Linked DNA regions of Homo sapiens: region 1 is linked to region 2. Evidence: fine-mapped QTL for protein levels in blood plasma. A gene starts in region 2. The other region holds a variant in brackets. All regions are shown on one strand. Distances are between the middles of the regions.

Region 1 (2,908 bases), 72 kb before region 2:
TGTTCCATGACGCTGGTTCTGATTCAATAGTGTGGGGTAGGGCTTGAGATTCTGCCTGTACAGGGAGCCCCTAGGTGATGCTCAGGCATCTGGTCCCCAGACCCAGTTGAGTAGCTAGGTTTTAGGGGTTTCCAACAGTGGGTAAAATTTCCCTTCCTTCCTCTGTCTGGGTCACTCCAGGAGGCTCAGCAACCCATCCTTTATCTATATATTTTTATCTATACCTATAATCTCCTTTGGCAGCCACCAGCACTGTGATTAATAAAAACTCACAAACTGTAATTTTTACATGATTTAAAAGCCAAGAATACCAACTGCTTCTTACTTTTTTTCTGCACTCTGTAACTTAAAAAAATTAGAAAAACATCCACAATAAATAGTAAAAACCCATTCTGAATGTAAGCTTCTAATTAGTCCATAAGCTCATATAATTTTTTTATATTTAATTTTTATTAGGTTTTACTTTAAAGTAAATAAGGCATTGTTGACTAAGCCTTAGAGACTAGGATGATCTGTAGACTTTGAACTCCTGTTAAAAGTTATGAAACTTTTGATACATTCTTAAAATATCCCCACCCCCCTTGTATAGCACTTAACCCTTTATTAAATACTTTAAAGGGAAGCAGGGAACTAACATTTATTGAATAGCTACTCTGTCGCAGGCAGTGTGTATTACTATTTCCAGTTTACTGAAGCAGCTAAGGTTAGAGATGTAAAGTGATTTGCCCAAATCGCATACTCATGGGGCAGAGCTAAACCCCAGGACATCAGATGCTGGCTCCAGGGTTCCCTCTTCCCCGCCTGCCCCCACTGAAGCGAACCATCACAGCACACGTTAGCTCCACCTGCTCGGGTCCACACGCAGTTTTGCTGTGGCCCTCAGTAGCCTCAATTTGAGAATCTTCAAGCCTGGAAGGTTTGCCATGGCCAGGCAGTCAAGGCGCAGAAGCGACAGGGGCTCCTTTCTCTAATACACAAAATATCAGGAGAACCCCCAGCCAGGTTAGTTTGTTTCTTTCCAGGTTGAGAAGTGAATCTGTAGCCAGGGCACACAAATCTTCATGAAAAATTAATTCGTGTATGCTGACAACCTGGGCACTCACACCCCTGGCAATTGCCTCCTTATCCCATGTCTCAGGCCATGAGCAAGAGTTTGTTTTCAAGTGACACATGACGGCTGGACAAACATTTATGAAACCCCCGCAGAGTGTGCATCTAGCACCTGCTTGTAAATGTTCTGTTAACAGCCTGGACCCAACTTTCTGGGGGCTCGTGGAGCTGGCAGGGAGTGAGGAGGACGAAGGCTGCAGCCCTCACCACAACCCAACTTACTGGTAAGAAGACTGGTGGTTCCTGAAGAGTGCCAGTCCCATCCCCAAGAGGGTGAGCGCAATCAGCTTCGCCATGGTCGGGGATAGACAAAGGGATCGATGGGCGCAGACACCGACGGGCTAGGAGGCTCTGCCTGCCTGCAGCCGCAGCCCTGCTGGGGCAGCGCCGATTGGCCCGCCCC[G/A]CCCCTCCCCGCCGGGTCGGCAGCTAGCTGGGCCGACCAGGTGCACAGAAGGCGTGGCTTGCGGTCAGCCCCCACCGCAGGAGCTCAGCACTTTCAGCCAAAAGTCCCATTTTGCTCCTTCCAACTGTAAAGAGAGAAGACAGAGAATAGGTGCCTAGTCCAGTCGGGGAGGGGAAATCAAACAAGCTGAAGTAAATTGCCATGGGAAAGGACAGTCAAGCTTTGGTGAGCACTCACTTTGTGCCATCCCGGTCCTTGCGTCTCAGAGAGATTCAGTAGCTTGATCATGGTGACAGCCAAAAAGGTGCGGAAGGGAGGGCTGTAGTAGGAACCCCTAAGATCTAACTGTTCTCACCAGGCTACTACTCTGTGTCACCTTCCAACATCTGGATTTCAAGCATTTTTCTCTCAACACCACTCTGACTTTAGAGTTCACTCAAGTACATCCCCCACACAGCTCATTCATTTCCTCATGCAGCTGGCATTTATTGAGTACCTACTATGTGCCAGGCGCTGTTCTAGATGCTACAGAACAGGACAAAACGTCTTCCTCAAGCTTACGTTCATTCCAATGGGGGGAGTCAATTGAGAAATCAGCAAAACATGTCACTGTGGCATATATAATGCTCTAGGTGATGCATGTGTGTGTTATGGATATGCACATATGTTATGGAGAAAACACATAAAGCAAGAAAGGGGATAAGGAATACCCTCTGCTGAAGAATAGCAGTCAGAGAAGTTCTCACTGATAATGGGGCATTTGAGTAAAGACCCAAAGGAGGTGCCTCTGTACAACCATGTCTCTCTTCTCTGCTGTCTGCTGTTACTGTGAATGATTTGCTCCATGTCTCTTTCCTTCTCAAGGCTTTTGGTCCCAGTTATACCTTCTCTCTTCTGCAATATCTGTCCTTTCATCTCTTGTGGAATATTGCCAGCCAATACCAACATGCTTTACTTATCACCTTTAGCTTTCTGGGGGGAAGCTTCTTTGGCCTCACATTGTAACTACTGCCCTCTCTCTCTGCTCCTTCTGAACACTTGCTCTTAAGCCTTGAGCTACTATGTAAAAAACCTGACCACTCCACTGGAGCATTCACATGAAAGGCCATGAACATATGGAGAGGGAAAGTGGTCAGCTGAAGCCAACCTCTTAACCATCGGCACCAAGGAAGCAGAAATGAATGAAGTGGGCTATTAGACAAGCCCAGCCACCACAGCCTGGCCACCAACTGAATACCACTGGCTAAGCCACCCTGGTTAACACCAGGTGGAGCAGAAGAATCTACCTAAGAAGTAGAACCAATGAATCCAAAAGAGAAGAGTATTCGAAAAGAGGGGGAATGATGATCTGTGTCCAATGTGGCTATGAGTTGAGTATGCTTATGGCAGAGAAGT
Region 2 (2,908 bases):
AAATAGCCCTAATTTTCTAAAGTATCGTCTGTTATAAATCTGCACTTAATCCCCTACAGTCTTGCCCTTTGAACTTTTCCTTCCAAACTGCTTTCCCAAAATTCAACAGGGTCTCCTAATAGTCAAACTCTATCACTTTTGCTTTAATTTTTAAATTTTATGCTGACTTACTCCGCAAGTATGTAAATTCATTAAACCAACCACAATTTAAACAATTGGCCGATTTATTTTTCAACACAATTTTCTTGTTTCCAGAGTGAAAAGGAATGTTTCCACATTCTTCTAATATCAGGGATAATTTAAAATTTTTATTAAAGTATATTCAGAAAGACTCAATACTTATCTTACAGTCATTTATTTAAAAAAATACCCTTAGATCTACTTTATTATTATTACTATTATTTTATGATTCTCCATGTGGTTGCACTGGGAGCAAATGTAACAATAAAACTCTCAAACTGGAAGTATTACTAATAGGCACCAGGCACCTCAACAGATTCTAGACGTGATCCTCTAAGAAGACCAGCTTCAACTAAGAGAAATACATAAACACTCAAAGACAACTGAAAGCAAGCAGAGGCTTTCGATCCACTCATGAATGTGTATTATCACTTAAAGGTTCTTCTTTCTAGCCCAGTATTGACTTTTCCTGAGACATTTCTAGGCTGGCTATCACCATTGTATCTTCCACTTCAAAAGGTCAAATGCCTACAAAATGCCAGTTACCGCCTGCAGGTTTCAGCTGGTTTGCCCTGCTGTCTGGCCAGCTCTTTAAATCTAGGATAGGTTCCATAACCCAGTACTTCTGCATGGTTAGCCAGACCTGGGCAATGTCTCAGTCAGCCGTAAACATCCAACTGGTAGCCTGATCCTCTCTCCCAAGTCCGGCGTTTCCAATGGACGTCCTTTTTTCCCAAGCAGAATGTTGAGGGCGAGCTGGGAAAGGGGTCATCACGTTCAGAAAGTAAAAGGGGGTCATGACCTTCAGAAAGCAAAGTGGGGGATCATAACCTTCAAAAAATAAATGGGACTAATTCGGCTCGGCAGTCTTTGGAAACGCAAGTAGCTCACTTTCCCCATAAGCGAGTCTCAAGGGGCGGTTTGCTGGGTGAGATGGAGGAGTGAGGTTCCAAAGCTGCTCTTTCCTACCCGCTAGGAAGGGGGCGCCAGGCAGCCCCTGACCTCACTTGGAAGAGGAGAGAAAGAGAGTCGAAGACGCCCTGTCAAGATGCCACTCACCTAAACGCCAGGAACATCTCCCCGACTAAGGACAGGCCGACCCCCAGCAGGACCAGCGCCACGAGCTTCCCCATGGTCTCGGGGTGCCCAGCGGCGACTGCGCGGCGCCGAGAGCTCTCGGGGGCGCGGCGGGCGGTTCCTGCCTCGCGTACGGATTGGGGCCCGCTCGGCCCCGCCCGCACACGCCTCCTACTTACCTGAGCGGCCCGGGTGCCGCAGCAGGGCGCTGACGAGTCCCGCCGAGCCCCGCCGCCCGGGTTCAAGGCCGCCTTCACGCCCACGATTCCTTGTTTTTTGGGCAGAGGTCAAGGCTCAACGGAGAGGGAGCCCGGGACCGAGTTGTGGTGGGAGTTTGCTCCTAACACCCGCGAAATCCTACCTCAATTCCTCAGATGGCCTGAGGGAGAAACCGGAGGGCCCGGGAATGGCGGGGAGCTCCAGTTCAGAGCCGGAACTCCGGACTTCTGCAAGGCCAGACGTGAGGCGACACTGAATTGCTCCCGAGACGCGGGAAGGGCGAAGGCAATCGAAGCGAAGAGCTTTAACTCATCTTCTCCAGGATTTGGGGCACGGGAACCTGTCTCCTGACCTTCGTGCCTTACCTCGGAGTGTGCTGCCCAGACGGACTTGTGAATAGCTGCGTCTGTCCCCATAGTTAACGGGAGAAGGAAACACCAGGAGAAAAGAAGGAAAAGACAGGAAACGGGAAGAGGAGCAGAGGCGAGGAAGGGGAAGGTCATTTCCTTGGCAGGGTAGGCCCTCTTTCTTCTAGGTCTTGAGTTCCTGCCAGGCAAGAAATGCTCTTTCCCCTCTCCTGATGAACACCAGGTTGGAGGGGGAGGAACTGAAGATGCGGGAAGACTTGGGGAGTTCGGGCAAAGTAGCACATTCAAGCATGATCTATTTTTATTTACGGACAGAAAGAAATATTAGTTCTGTTAGGTTCCACCGAGTAAACTATTTGTTGAGAGAGCAAGATTTGCCAATCCTGGGGGTATTAAGGAAAGAAAAGGTGGTCCCTGACCTATGGGATACATGATTCTAGTATGAATACGTAATTACAGGATGAATAATGAAGCCCACCGCTTATGCAGTACTGACTGTGTGCTTTGCCTGTGCTGACACCTATGTTAACGCATTTAATTATCAACACAATCTCTGGAGTGTGGGTAGCCTTACCCCAATTTTACAGGTGAGACCTGCAGCACAGATTGCTTATGTGGCTTGCTGTAGGTCAGGCAGCTGTCAAGCAGCAGACTCCAAAATCTGGGCCCTTAACTGAGCTGCCTCTACCATGCTGCCTCTAGAAAATCTATGGAAGAAGGGTTGTATTAAAAGGACAGTGTAACGTCTTGAATTGTATAGATTAGAGTTCTTGTTAAGATGACTAATGTTAAAAGAGTGCAAGCAGAGGAGGAATCGAAGTCAGGAGGGCTCACAGAGCTGAGGGGCCTGGGGTGTGATGTAGACATGCATGCAGGGTTTGGGAGTCAGGCTGCCTGGGTTTGGATCCAGCCTAGATAAAGTACTCAGCTTTATTGAGCTACAGATTCCTCTTCTGTAAAAGAACGTCCACCTCATAGGTAGCTTAAAATTAAATGTGATAATGAGTGTCAAGTGCTCTGCACTGTGCTTGATACGTTTTATGAAGTCAGTAAAGATTAACCAC

Alleles and levels. Alleles are on the strand shown, and positions count from the first base shown. The strength of an association depends on the size of the effect and on how common the allele is.
With allele G in place of A in region 1, the plasma level of the protein whose gene starts at base 1,338 in region 2 is lower (moderate association).

The links. PIP is the chance, under the fine-mapping model, that this variant and not a neighbour inherited with it causes the effect. Protein levels are from antibody-based Olink assays in UK Biobank. Linkage for the fine-mapping came from a reference panel and not from the study's own genotypes, which makes the PIPs less certain.
Region 1: its variant is fine-mapped to the plasma level of the PON3 protein (UK Biobank, PIP above 0.99).

What each region holds. Positions count from the first base shown.
Region 1 is chr7:95,323,070-95,325,977 of GRCh38, forward strand. PON1 (paraoxonase 1) reads right to left here and starts at 1,463. Exons shown (of 9, transcript NM_000446.7): 1 at 1,333-1,463. The coding sequence starts at 1,406. RefSeq lists a silencer at 1,407-1,586. The variant G/A (reference allele first, on the strand shown) is at 1,514.
Region 2 is chr7:95,395,038-95,397,945 of GRCh38, forward strand. It overlaps PON3 (paraoxonase 3), which reads right to left and starts at 1,338. Exons shown (of 9, transcript NM_000940.3): 1 at 1,240-1,338. The coding sequence starts at 1,313. LOC107986822 (a long non-coding RNA gene) reads left to right here and starts at 1,435. Exons shown (of 2, transcript XR_007060439.1): 1 at 1,435-1,991.